4 linked regions of the Homo sapiens genome follow. The protein of the gene in region 4 purifies or fractionates together with the protein of the main gene of each other region. This does not show direct contact. Each region holds a gene or a part of one and is shown on either strand. Other genes may lie near its edges.

The links. The genes of interacting proteins can lie anywhere in the genome.
Region 1: the proteins of BATF3 (region 4) and GOLIM4 purify together in Homo sapiens (affinity purification with mass spectrometry; 2 studies listed by BioGRID and IntAct, with this or other methods). This does not show direct contact.
Region 2: the proteins of BATF3 (region 4) and BACH1 purify together in Homo sapiens (affinity purification with mass spectrometry; 2 studies listed by BioGRID and IntAct, with this or other methods). This does not show direct contact.
Region 3: the proteins of BATF3 (region 4) and EEF1D purify together in Homo sapiens (affinity purification with mass spectrometry; 2 studies listed by BioGRID and IntAct, with this or other methods). This does not show direct contact.

The regions. Positions count from the first base shown.
Region 1 is NC_000003.12:168,029,925-168,033,424, forward strand, and holds part of GOLIM4 (Golgi integral membrane protein 4), read right to left. Parts: intron 2,929-3,500; coding exon 2,596-2,928; intron 113-2,595; coding exon 1-112. UniProt on the Homo sapiens protein: Plays a role in endosome to Golgi protein trafficking; mediates protein transport along the late endosome-bypass pathway from the early endosome to the Golgi.
Region 2 is NC_000021.9:29,322,922-29,326,421, reverse strand, and holds part of BACH1 (transcription regulator protein BACH1), read right to left. Parts: intron 364-3,500; coding exon 1-363. UniProt on the Homo sapiens protein: Transcriptional regulator that acts as a repressor or activator, depending on the context. Binds to NF-E2 DNA binding sites. Plays important roles in coordinating transcription activation and repression by MAFK.
Region 3 is NC_000008.11:143,587,416-143,590,915, forward strand, and holds part of EEF1D (elongation factor 1-delta), read right to left. Parts: exon of another isoform or gene 3,193-3,500; intron 2,667-3,192; coding exon 1,576-2,666; intron 1-1,575.
Region 4 is NC_000001.11:212,689,841-212,693,340, forward strand, and holds part of BATF3 (basic leucine zipper transcriptional factor ATF-like 3), read right to left. Parts: intron 2,528-3,500; exon of another isoform or gene 2,424-2,527; intron 1-2,423. UniProt on the Homo sapiens protein: AP-1 family transcription factor that controls the differentiation of CD8(+) thymic conventional dendritic cells in the immune system.

The sequences.
Region 1 (3,500 bases), on a different chromosome or scaffold from region 4:
GTTCCCGCAGCTGCTGGGCCTCCTCCACCTGCTGCACTGCCAGTCTCTGCTGTTCCAACTGTTCCTCATAGGGTGATTGGAATTTGATCATTGGCTTGGCTGAAGGGTACACCTAGGGTGAAAAAGAGTTGGTGCAGAGCAAGAGGGGTTAGCTCCTCTGGGTTTTCTCTTCATTTGTTTCTCCTGACAAACTCAGGAGGCAGAGCTGGTTTATTAACGACTATTTGTCAGGTGAACTGTGATTATACATGAAGTCCAAAAACTCCTATTTCCCAACTTTCTCTGAATCACCCTTGGCTTTTTTAGCAGCTGATATTTCCAACTACTGCTATTAAGGCAGATTTTCAATGTGCTCCCTTCTCAAATGGAACAGAAGGGACAACCGAAGATAACAGTTTCAAACTGTAAAATTTATGTTCACAAGGCTCTGATATAAACAAGTAGTTGGTAACTTTGGTAACTTCACATTAACTGGGCAATCTGTGACCTTATGCTACGCCTAAGGCTTTTTCCATGAACAGTTAAAGACCGAGGGATGCTAATTAACTCTAGTAATGTATATACCAATCCCAGGCTAAGCATAGCCAAAAAAAAAAAAAAAAAAAGCCACATTCCAGGTAATAGTGGAAAAGCAGATATTCAATTTTTTTTCAAAGAAACTAAGAATGGCTGAGAAGATGGTGCCTTCTGATTAAAGGGAAATCTGATACAGCAATTCTTAAAACTCTGCTTCCCTGAGATATTATCTCACCCCAGTTATAATGGCTTTTATCAAAAAGGCAACAACAAACGCTAGTGAGGATGTGGAGAAAGGGGAACCCTCGTACGCTGTTGGTGAGAATGTAAATTAGTATAGCCAATATGAAAAACAGTATGGAGGTTCCTCAAAAAGCTAAAAATAGAACCACCATATGATCCAGCTATCCTATTACTGGGCACATATCCAAAAGAAAGGAAATTGCTATATTGAAGAGATACTTGCACTCTCAGGTTTATTGCAGCATTACTCACAATGGCTAAAACATGAAATCAACCTAAGCATCCATCAACGGATGAATGGATAAAGAAAATGTGGTACATATACACAGTCATAAAAAAGAATGAAATCTTGTCATACGCAGTGACATGGATGGAACTGGAGGCCATTATGTTAAGTGAAAAACTTCAAGCACAGAAAGACATACATTGCATATTCTCATTCATGTAGGAGCTTAAAAAAGCGATATTGATAAGATAGAGTGGATTGGTGGTTACTAGAAGCTGGGAAGGGGGATGAAGAGAGACTGATGAATGGTACAAACATATAGTTAGAGAGAAGGAATAAGACCTAATGTTTGGTAGTTCAGTAGGGTGACTACGATTAACAATAATCTATCTTATATTTCAAAACAGCTAGAAGAATTTGAATGCTCCCAAAATAAAAAAGAGATAAATGTTTGATGTGATGGGTTATCTAGGTTTGATGTGATGGGTTATCTAGATTTGATCATTATACATTATATGAATGTTTCAAAATATCGCCCATACTCTGAAAATATATACATATATTATGCATCAATAAAAAGTGTCTGTACCCCATTGAGCTACTACCCATCCTCCCTGCCATACCCCAACTAACAAAAGCACACACAATTCTCACTTAAGGAAAGAGGTAGAGGGTTGGGAAGTAAAGCTGGTGGGGAATTACTTCCCCTATTGGGGAAGGACACAAGACTGGAAGAAGCTTTCTGAGGTTAAGTTTGCAACTACCTAAGAGGGCAACTACAGAGGTCTTCACACCTGCTTAGCCTAAAGCCTCAAGCGGCTTGAAGTCTCAGAAAATCTGAGGCCGAATAAAACTTCAGAGTTATAAATAGAAGGTGATCCACACCCATGTAAAGGCCAGGTAACCTACTATTGAGACTCAGTTTAGAGACAGTAAAAGAAAGGCATCTAGCTGCACTAACTGTTGGTTTAAAAGAAGAAAGGGTAGAGTTTTCTTTTAAAGCATCATTTATAATAATCCTGGCCATTTTTTTTTAAGAAAGGGAAAAGTCTTACGTGTAAGTGGCGTGTCCAGTAAGGGATCCTGAGCAGAGGCTGTTTAGATATGCTCACCTAGTAGAATATCTCCAAGTAGTAAAATCAGATTTTTGATAATTAAATAACCACCTTGAAGGTGAATACAAAAGGCAACATACTGACAATAAATGAACAGGGAGAGGAGGACGCCTGATCATAGAAAATGAGATTTTTCTCTGCCTCAAGATGCTCAAGACAAAACTTGGGTACAAGCTGGGAAGGTGCCCCATCAGGTACTCACCTGTTCTACTCTATTAAGGTGATGTGAGAATGAATCTCTGACTGTGTACAACTGACAAAAAGAAGAATGCACACATACAACAGCTGTGCTCTCTCATCACCAATCATCTTTCTGAGGTATGCGAATAGCTATGCTATTAACATTACAAGAGAAAACTTAAATATGAGCATATAATGTTTAGTAGAATCACTCACATTTCTATTTTAGAGATTGTGATATATTACCTTAATATGTAAAAATAAAGCCAGGTTTTCCATCCCAGTACACCATACCAGAAGCGGGTGACTTCATACCTCAGCACGCGCGTGCCCTTCCAGGAGGTTGGCTGCTTCTCGTTGCTCATGCTGCTCTTTCCACTCCCGATCCTGCTCCTCTGGTGATGGATCGTGTTCCTCCTCAAGATGTTCTGCTTGCCCGACCTGCTCCATTTCTTCCTCCTCCAGGGCCTTTCTGTGCTCCTCTTCCACCTGATGCTCCTCAGGTTCTCTGCGTTCCACTTCTTGTTGGATTGGCTCTGGGGGAGCCTGAAATTCTGCCTCCTTATGGGTGGGAGCATAGAGTTTTGTGTCTTCTGCTCTTCCAGGAACTGCTTCATGGTTCTGCCACACATCATTATTTCGAGACACCTAGGCCAAGCACATCACTGGGAATGACACTCTTCCAATTTCAAAAGTAATGATGTAATTTCTTGATTTCCATGTCTATGGGGCATGGGGCTACAACAGAAGAAGGTGTCTAGAAATATATATAGTCCTGGCTTTATGGCTGCAATGGAGTCACTTAAGTTTCTTACTGTGTAATCTCACTTATAAAATAGACATAATATAAGCAAAACTTCATCTGTGAAGAATACAGTAAATAACCTGGAAAATAAAACCTCCAAGTAACCAATATCTCAGAAGTACTCTAATTCCTATTTTCCCTTAGAATAAAAAGGAACAAAACCTCAAACTTCAAGTGATGAAATGTTTACATAATTTTCTTCAATGTAAATTTTGTTTTCAGTAATTATTTGAAAAGAGAAGGATGAAATAAAATTGAGGAGTTGGGTTTAGTTTTTACTAGTTTGGTTTACTAATTTAAAAAAGAATGCCATTGGCCGGGCGCGGTGGCTCACGCCTGTAATCCCAGCACTTTGGGAGGTCGAGGCGGGTGGATCACGAGGTCAGGAGATCGAGACCATCCTGGCTAACACAGT
Region 2 (3,500 bases), on a different chromosome or scaffold from region 4:
TAGAGGAGGTGAGGCTTTTGCATTTCCTTGATACCTGCGGAGTTTACACTGAGGAGTCTGAACATTTTTATTTTCCAGAAATTCCTCCACTTCATCAGTTTCTAGATCCCTCTGGTCCAAAAGTGAAAGTTTAAGGTCTGTTTTCTGACAGTGTGATGAAAAGCATTTTTTTCTTGGGCATTCTTGCTGGTCTGCAGTGGAGTCCAAAAACTTAAATTTCAGAAACTGAAAGCAGGATTCCTCAATATTATGTACACTTAAAAACTCCACACATTTGCACACTTCATCCACATTCTCTTTACTTAAAATCAGTTTAGCAGTGTAGGCAAACTGAATTAAAGGTTCAAATCCTTTAACTGTCACCTGTTGATACACAAAATAAAAACAAACACATCATTTGAAAGCTGTCTAGTACATAAAAACAAAATAAGTAGAAGAGGAATAGAGAGATATGTAACTTATTTGTGATAATTATAAAATATGTACTTTAATTTGAAGAAAACATATTCTTCTAAGAAATGTAAAAGAAAAAGATCCTGGAAAAGCATGCTTTTCACAGGGACCACACACTATTTTATAGAGTCCTCTCTTAATTGCACATGAATTATGGTTTACTCACATAAGTTAAAGATGTAAGACATTACCACAATTTTCCCATGATAGTGAAAAAAAAAATCATCTATGAATTAGAGCAGGATGAACACTACCTGCCACACATAGTGAGTCTACTGCTAGCCCAGCTCCACATGGCCACTGTATTCCAAACAACTCCAACTGCTACAAGCTACAAAAGCAGAATTTTAAAGGATATAAAACAGTATTTGTAAAGCAGTTACAAAGTCTTGATCCATGGTAAATGCATACTAACTGGTAACTATTAACTTTACTGTCAAAAATTCCTAACAGTAAAAGTTTTAAAGATTCAGATTTTTAAAAGTGATCTAAGAGAAGTTATAAAAATCATGCCTCGGTACTGTTTCAGCAAAAATTCATGGACTCGAAGTAACAAAACTTTTAAGTAGAAACTTGCACATTTACATTAAACCTGCCTCTTAAAGTGAGAGGCAAATGGAACCAACTCCAGTACACAGAAGGCATCATCCTGGATTAAAAGCACAAAATTAATTTGAAACCACTGAGTTCTTATAAGAGTGGTCAAGATAATATTAATATTTGTGATTTTTTTTTTTCTAAGACGGAGTCTCGCTCTGTCGCCCAGGCTGGAGTGCAGTGGCGCGATCTCGGCTCACTGCAAGCTCCGCCTCTCGGGTTCACGCCATTCTCCTGCCTCAGCCTCCCGAGCAGCTGGGACTACAGGTGCCTGCCACCATGCCCGGCTAATTTTTCTGTATTTTTAGTAGAGACGGGGGTTTCACCACGTTAGCCAGGATGGTCTCTATTTCCTGACCTCGTGATCCACTCGCCTAGGCCTCCCAAAGTGCTGGGATTACAGGCGTGAGCCACCGCGCCCGGCTGTGATCTTCTTAAAAACATAAACATGCTAAACCATGTTTAGGCTTTTTAAAGGCTCCAATAAAAAGCAGTGATACCATCAAATGCTAATGAGAATGCCGATAAACTAAATCACTCACATATTGCTAGTGGGAATGTAAAATGGTACAGACACTTTGAAAAAAACTTTCTTATAAAACTAAACATGCAACTACCATATAACCCAGCAACTGCACTCCTGGTCTTTTATCCCAGAGAAATGCAAATTTATGTTCACACAAAAACCAGTACACAAATGTTTACAGCAATTTTATTTGTGATAGCCAAAAACCAGAATTAGCCTGATTTCCTTCAATAGGTAAAAAGCTACACACACACACACACACACACACACACACACACACACACACACAAGGTACATCCATACTACAGAATATTACTCAGCAATAAAAAGGAATAAATTGCTGATACACACAAGCTGGATAATCTCAGCTAAGTCAAACAACATCAATCCTAAGAGGTAATATACTGCATAATTCCATTTATATAACATTTTTAGAATGACAAAACTTTAGAAAAGGAAGAAAGATTAGTGGTTGCCATGGATTAGGCACGGAGGAAGGGGGCAAGGGGATGAGGGCATGGAGTGTAGGCAGGAGATGTCTGTGGTTATAAAAGGACAACACAAGGGATCTTTGTGTTGGCAAGTTCAGTTCCTTTTTTTTTTTTTTTTTTTTTGAGGCAGAGTCTCTCTCTGTCACCCAGGCTAGAGTGCAGCGGCACGATCTTGGCTCACTGCAAGTGATTCTCCTGCCTCAGTCTCCCGAGTAGCTGGGATTACAGGTGCCCGCCACCACGCCTGGCTAATTTTTGTATTTTTAGTAGAGATGTGGTTTCACCATGTTGGCCAGGCTGGTCTCGAACTCCTGACCTCAGGTGATCTGCCTGCCTCGCCCTCCCAAAGTGCTGGGATTACAGGCATGAGCCACTGGGCCCGGCTGTTATCTTAACTATGGTGGTGGATACACAAACCTTCGCAGGGGATAAAATTATATAGAACTTAACCCGCACACACACATGCTAGTACAAGCAAAATTGTGGCAATCTGAACGCTATGGGAGATTGTATCAATATCCTGGTTGTAATACTATACTACAATTTTGCAAAATGTTATCAATGGCGGACACTGGACAAAGTGAAAAGGAACTCTGCATTGTTTCTTACATCTGTACATGAAAACATCAGTGTGACAGTTAATATTAAATGTCAACTTGATTGGATTGAAGGCTGTAAAGTCTTGTTTCTGGGTGTGTCAGTGAGGGCGTTGCTAGAGAAGACTAACATTTGAGTCAGTGGACTGGGAGAGGAAGACCCACCCTCAATATGGGTGGGCACCATCCACTCAGCTGCCAGCGAGGCTGGAACAAAACAGGAGGAAAAAGGTGGGATAGGTGACTTGCTGAGTCTTCCAGCTTTCATCTTTCTCCCCTGCTGGATGCCTCCTGCCCTTGACATCAGACGCCAGGTTCTTTGGCCTTTGGACTCTCAGACTTACACCAGCGGTTTGCCGAGGGCTCTTGGGCCTTTGGCCACAGACTGAAGGCTCTACAGTGTTGGCTTCCCTACTTTTGAGGCCTTTGGACTCGGACTGGGCCACTACTAGCTTCCTTCCTCCTCAGCTTGCAGGTGGCCTATAATGGGCCTTCACCTTGTGAACATGTGAGCCAATTCTCCTTAACAAACGCCCCTTCATACATACATATATCCTATTAGTTCTGTCCCTCTGGAGAACCCTAATACACTCGATAAAAATTTCAATTAAAATTTTTAAATATGTTAAAATAATCTAAAAAGGTCTTTAGGATAGTGAGTTATAAGGTATTTTGACATTGTCACTATAATGAAACACTTCAAATATTTGAAAACTTATGATTTACACATTAGAAAGAATGAATGAATGCATACACACATGCATGTATGCACATACCTTTCCTCCTAAATCCACGAATCAAACTTTGCTTTACTTGTAAAGTCTCATTCAATAATTT
Region 3 (3,500 bases), on a different chromosome or scaffold from region 4:
GCCTCCTGGGTTCAAGCGATTTTCCTGCCTCAGCCTCCCGAGTAACTGGGACTACCAGTGCACACCACTGTGCCTGGCTAATTTTTTGTATTTTTAGTAGACAAGGTTTCACCATGTTGGCCAGGCTGGTCTTGAACTCCTGATCTCAGGTGATCCACCCGCCTCGGCCTCCCAAAGTGCTGGGATTACAGGCGTGAGCCACCGTGCCCGGCCCATTTCTCAGTTTTAATTGCTAATGTGGTAAAAATCAATAGATACAATGAAAGCTCTTTGGGGTCCTGAGAGCAAGAAGGTTGAGAATTGCTGCCCTAGACAGGGACCATGGCCCGCAGGCAAATCCAGCCTGTGGTTTTACTGGCACAAAGCCCCACCTCGTGCCACTCCCACTGGCCAGCAGCAGAGGAGCTGGGCAGATGACTCTGTGGCCGGGGCCCAGACCCTCTGGTTCTTTATGGAGTTTGCCGCCCCCCACCCTGGACTGGCCAAGACCCTCTTACTGTCCAACCAAGCACAACAGAACTGTCCCCCTCCTGCCCTGCCGCCAGTCTGTGTGTGGACTCCGGACCATCGCTGGACCTTGCCAAGTGTCCTCTCGGTAACAAAGGGCTGGAGTCTGTGAGCGTCCTCTGCGTCCCTGACCCAGGACACTCTCTCGGCAAGGAGGGACCAGGCCACCGTGAACACCAGGGCAGGTGGAAGGGCAGGAGGTAGCATTCCCCTATGGGGTCCTGCCCTCAGGTTATCTTGTTAACCAGCAAATCCAGACCCCTAGGGGTCCAAGGTTGGAACCACTTCCTTGGGGGCCTCAGCAGCTGCTTGGGACCTTCAGAGTCCTTCCCTGACTCAGCCCGCCCCACCACCAGGACACCCTCGCCAACAGGCCAGCCTCGCCACTTCCATGCCCTCTGTATTCCCCTCCAAGTCCAATCGTCCACCCACCTGCCTGGCCCCAGAGACCGCTGCTGGGGTTGCACCTGCACCCTGGAGCAAGCCCACAGCACCCAGAGGGAGGTCACACAGACGGGGCACCCTGGGATGGAGGCCACCTGACCAGCCACATGCCCATGCATCTGAGACGCCACCACCTTCCCTCAGAGGTGGTTTCAGGTGACAAGGAAAGCTGGGGGTGCACAGGATGGACAGGCAGGGACACACTGGCTCCCACATCTCATCGCAGGGGAGCGCTAGGGCCAGAAACCAGCTTCAATGCTTCCCGCCCCTATAAGTAGCCTTATCTTCTCAGCCCTGGCATGTGACAGCCACAGGGGACTTGGGGAGCTTCCCAGCCAAAGAGGGACCCTGGGCAAGGCAGAGATTCTGCCCTGTGCTGAGCCCTTCCCTGCCCTCATCCAGGCAGCCTGGAACTTTGTAACCTCAAGCAGTGTCCCTGGAACCCACAAGCGCAGCACCACCTTTACTCAGCCTGCTCCTGCATTCAACTCTGCTGGGCCCACGGGTCTCGGGGAGCCCCCACCCCAGGTGGGCAGGGGAGGAAGCTGGAGGAGCCCCAGCCTGGGATGGCTGTCCCTGTGCCCACAGCCCAGGCTGGGTGCCCACCCAGCACGTTTCTCCTACTTGGGTCTCAGGCTGGACACGGACAGGCCAGACCGAGGACCGGGTCGGTGAGACAGGGAGGCAGCTTCGAGGCACCAGGCCACCCGCAGGGCCTCGGCAGCGTGGTGGCGGCACTCGGCGCTGTCGTAGGCAGGCTTGCTGAGCCAGGGGGCCTCTGCATCCTTCTGCAGGAAGTAACAGTAGGGCAAGGCAGAGGGGGCCTCCCCATCGGCCCGTCGCAGCCCGGCCCGCTTGTTCCCTAAGATGTTGCGGCCCCGCCGGTCTCTGCGGCCCCGCCGGGCACCCTCGGCCAGGCCGGCTCGCTCTTGCAGGCGCACCTTCCCTGGGGGATGGCCGTCAAACAGGGCCTCGTAGAAGCCCCTCTCGGCTGCATCATACCGGGGCTTCTCCAGCCACACCTCCCGAACCAGTGCCTGCAGGCTGCCCAGCGGGGGCTGGCCATTGACCGGTGGGCTGGGCTGGTGGGCCAGGTCGGGGACGGCCACCTGCTGGCCTGTGTTGGGAGTCCCCTGCCTGCGGCTGCCGTCGGGGGCCAGCAACAGGGCCTGAGACCACTCCACGAAGGCCCGCTCAGCCTGGTCGAAGGAGGACTTGTTGACCCAGATCCCCCAGGTCACGTGGTGGCAGGCCACCTGGTTTCCATGGGTGCAGAGACCCCAAGGGGCCAAGGCAGGAGGCCAGGCTGCCTGGGCAGCCACATCTGCCAGCTTCTGGCGGTAGGAGCTCTCTGCCTGGTCGAAAAGTGACTTGTCCAGCCACACGCGTTCGGCCGAGAGGCCCAGGAGGGCCAGGTCCGCGGGGCCGAGCCCGCTCTTGGGGGAGCGCTTCCTCTTTTTCTGCAGGGGCTTCCTGCTGTCCTGGCTCTTCCTGGGATCACGCCTGCTGCCGCCGTCAGGGGCTTCCGCCTCATCAGCGTCCTCAGGGTCGTCCTGGCCGGGCCCATTCATGGCTGGCCCCTCGGCTGGCAGCTGCTGGGCGGAGGCGGCCGCCTGTGTGGCCTCGTGTTCGTAGAAGCGCCGCTCGGCCTCCTCATACTTGTGCTTGTCTTCCCACACGGTCTCCAGGGTGCAGGAGGCCTTCCCGCTCCTCATCTTCCGGACACAGCGATAAAAAGCAAGCAGAGGGCAGAGTTGCAACACAGCGGGTGGCCGCAGCCCCGTGCCCACCCTCCCCGTGCCCGCCCTCCCCGTGGCTGCCCTCCCTGGGCAGGGGCTGAGGATGCTCCCCAGTGGGGCTTCCATGAGATGACATTCGAGGACTTCGAAGTCAAGCCCATGTGGGGACGTTTTGTTGTGAAGAGAAAACAGGCCGGGCGCAGTGGCTCATGCCTGTAATCTCAGTACTCTGGGAGGCCAAGTGCCTCCCAATACATGAACAATATATAATTTTGTTAGTGAATGTATGGCCCATGAAGTATCTGAGACATACTTACACTAAAAATTTTTCGTCATTTATCTGAAATAAGCTTTAACTGGCTAACTAGCTTTCCCTGCATTTTTCCACAGGCCAGGCCTGGCCACCCCACCATGGTGGCTGGTGTTCCCATTCTACAGAACGGTCTCTGTGGCTGTCCTGGCCACACCACTGCCACACCCAGAGCACCCTCAAAGTTCTTACAAAAGAAGGAGCCTCGGCCAGGCACGGTGGCTCACACCTGTAATCCCAACACTTTGGGAGGCCGAGGCGGGCGGATCACAGGGTCTGGAGACTGAGACCATCCTGGCTAACACGTTGAAACCCTGTCTCTACTAAAAATAAAAATAAAAATTAGCCGGGCGTGGTGGCAGGCGCCTGTAGTCCCAGCTCCTAGGGAGGCTGAGGCAGGAGAATGGCGTGAAGCCGGGAGGCGGAGCTTGCAGTGAACCGAGATGGCGCCACTGCACTCCAGCCTGGACAACAGAGCAGGGGAAAAGAAAAAAAAAGAG
Region 4 (3,500 bases):
ACACAACCACAGACACACACACAGATACACACAGTCACACACACATCTGCAAACACACTCTCATACCCAGCCACAGACACTCTCACACACATACACAATCAACACACAGTCACACAAACACTCTCACAGTCACACACATACAGTCATACACACATACATACACCTCACACAGTCACACACACTCACAAAAACTCAGACTCACATGCAGACTCCCCACATTCACATTCACATACACACTCACACACACACACTCCACCCTGCAGCAGGAAATGCCCTTGACTTTCAAGTAAAATGGAGAGTACATTTGAATAGTTCCAATGTGCTAACATTTTAAGTAGATTCCAAAGGACAAGAAGCCCTCTTCCTTTGGTAGAATATTCCAAGCTGCCTTTCTACATATACTGAATTCCGCAGCAAGACGCTCTGAGCTTCCCAGTTTTGTCTCTGGAAGCCGTGCGCAGCCCTGTGGCCTGAGGCTTCCCTGAGGTCCACTGCCCTCCCCCAACCCATGCTTAGAGTCTTCAGAGCCGCCCGACAGGTGCCCCACGGGCCCCTCATCTGCCTTCTCCATAAGGACTTTCTCTTCTAGGATTTAAGCATTACTCATAAACCCGCTGAGGGACTTTTATTGAGCTGAGGGAATAACAAGAAGAGAAGAAGTCAAAATCTTTAGGTGAGACGAGCCCTTTGAAAATAACAAGAGGAGCTGGGAGGGAAGAAAGAAGAGGCCAGAGAACACTGAATAGCAGCAAAGGGGGAAGAAATGAAACCCACCTCACACCCAGAAGAAATTCCTGGAGTAAACGCAAACAAAAAGCAAGCAAAGAACATTAAACCCTTCATTATTTCCAAAAATATGACCCCTCTAGCTCGAATTCTGCCAAGTTCCAAATCCTTTGCCATGGGAGGGTTTGAGGTTGCTGTGCTCCCTCTCTGGGTATTTGTCGGGACAGTTTCAAAGCAGACACCTAAAAATTAGAGGTGGTGAAATCACTGTGGATCCCAGCTCTGCCTCAGAAATTAAGCTGCCTAAGGCAGTGGATCTCAAGTAGGGCAATTGTGGCAGTCTGCAGGGGACACTGGCAGTGTATGGAGACAGTTTGGGTTATCGCAGCTGGTCGGGGGTGCTACTACATCATGTGGCTAGAGGCCAGGGATGCTGCTCAACATCCAGCAGCACACAAGACAGGCCCCCAACAACAAGGAATTATGCTGCCCCATGCATAAACAGTGTTGAGGCTGAGAAACCCTGTTCTGGGCATCTAGGAGCAGGTGACTGGGATCAACGGGCTGCCTAGGGATACGCAGGGTCCAGGATGCCTCTGAGGCTGAAGACAGGATCAAGGACTGGTAAAGAAGTGGGTACCAGGGACCAGATATGACAACTAAGGTGAGAAAGAAAGAAGTAGGAACAGGCTAACAGGAGGCCATAGCCACACACAGACCCCATTTCACAAGTTAGAAAACTGAAGCTCTGAGAGGTACAGTGACTTTTCCAAGGTCACATAGACCTGGGATCTGACTCCTAACTTCAAGGTCAACTGCAACTCTCTTGTAGCATCAACAATTCTGCTTTTAGTTAGCAGTGCCTGGGTCCAGATTTCCCCATGATGGTTACCAGAAGTAAGAGGCCATAAGATCTCAGGACTTCAGAATAAGTCTACTCCCAAGCCTTCACTGATGCACTTCCCAGCAGAAAAATTGTGTTACCAGCAAGGGCTGTACAAATGAGTGCCACAATCAGTTTCTAAGCCACATGGGTGCTGCCATGAAGCTCTCAGAACATGCAATATCTGAAAAAACCATGGCAACACATACCACAATCACATTGCCCAAGTCATTTGTCAGTTTGTGACATTTGGGGCTCCTGAGGATGGCACTGCTGCTTTCCTTTTGTGACTCAAAATTCTTTCTCAGTCTTACACCTTTGGGGTGCCTGGTCGAGCCAGTCTGACCCACTTCTGAGCCACCTTTCAGCCTGGGTGAGATGAGACGAGACCCTGACTGTTCACTTTGGTTCTCATTTGTCAGTGTGGACTTTGGCACACGCCTAGTGTTCAGAGATGAATGCAGGTCGAAATCCCCACGGGAGGTGTGAGCGGGTTGAAGGGATGATTTGAAAGCCCACAGTGGACTCTGAGGTCTACAGACACACGTTAAGAACTGCTTCTCATCACCGTAGTCCAACTGCCAGCAACCACTGCCCAGAAAACTCTGCGTGAAGGGGAACCCCAGCCCCTGCCTCTCTGGCTTGGCCTGTGCAGCCTCTTCCCCCATTCTCCCCTCCACAGAGGGCTCGCCTTGACGGACACTCCTAGGACTTTGGAGATGGAGAACAAGGAGGGGAGGGAGGTGGCCGAAAAACTCCTAAGAGCTGCAGCTGGGGCAAGTTTCTCAGGGTGTTGGAGGCAACAGAGGCTCAAGTACTCACTTCAGCAGCACATACATTAAAATTGGAATGATACAGGGATTAACATGGCCCCTGAGCAAGGATAATATGCAAATTCATAAAGTGTTCCATATTTTTTTAAAAACCCAGGAAGACGAAAGAGCAAAAAAAACCCAAAAAAACCAGAGGCTCAAGTATAGGTAGAGTATGTGAGTGAGGTGAGGAGAGAAAAGTGGAAACTCTTGTTGCCCAGGCTGGAGTGCAGTGGCGTGATCTCGGCTCACTGCAACCTCCACCTCCCAGGTTCAAGCAATTCTCCTGCCTCAGCCTCCCGAGTAGTTGGAACTACAGGCGCACGCCACCACACCTGGCTAATTTTTGTATTTTTAGTGGAGATGGGGTTTCGCCATGTTGGCCAGGCTGGTCTTGAACTCCTGGCCTCAAGTGATCCACCCGCCTCAGCCTCCCAAAGTGCTGGGATTACAGGCACGAGCCACTGTGCCTGACCAAAAAGTGGAAACTTTAAACAAGTTTGCTCCAAATATCCCCCCTCAGGATATGCAAGAAATGCAAGTAAAGAGCTTGAGTTACTTTGAGATATTCAGGAATGCAATCCCTGCAGTGTGGGATAGAGGAACACATGAAGAAAGCCCTTTGATGCGCTACAGTCTCCAGGGAGCAGCAGGCAGTGGCTGTCAGTGGCTGTTTTCTGGGCCCTCTGGTGTCTCCCAATGAGCTGGCCTCACTCCAGATTTGAGGAGGAGGTTCCTATGCATGGTGTCCCCACCCTAGATTGGCCTGGGAGGTCCAGGGGTCCCAAGGGGCTTTCTGTCATGGCCCGCAGTAGTGTGCAAGGCGCTCTGTGCTCAACTCACTGGAGCTTGACAAAAGGGTTCTTTACACCATTTTTAAACCAGATACCTTGCCTCCAATAGTAGATTTAGTCATCCAATGATACACACAGCTACAATGCCCTCCTGGAAGGAACAGGGAAGGGATTACTCACGTGGTGAGTAATGATTTGGTTCAGAGATGATGTTCCTTTGGTTCTGCAGAAGGTTTGGGATATACTTCCATTTTCCTAAGCCAGTCGTCTGCTTCCTCACCCGCT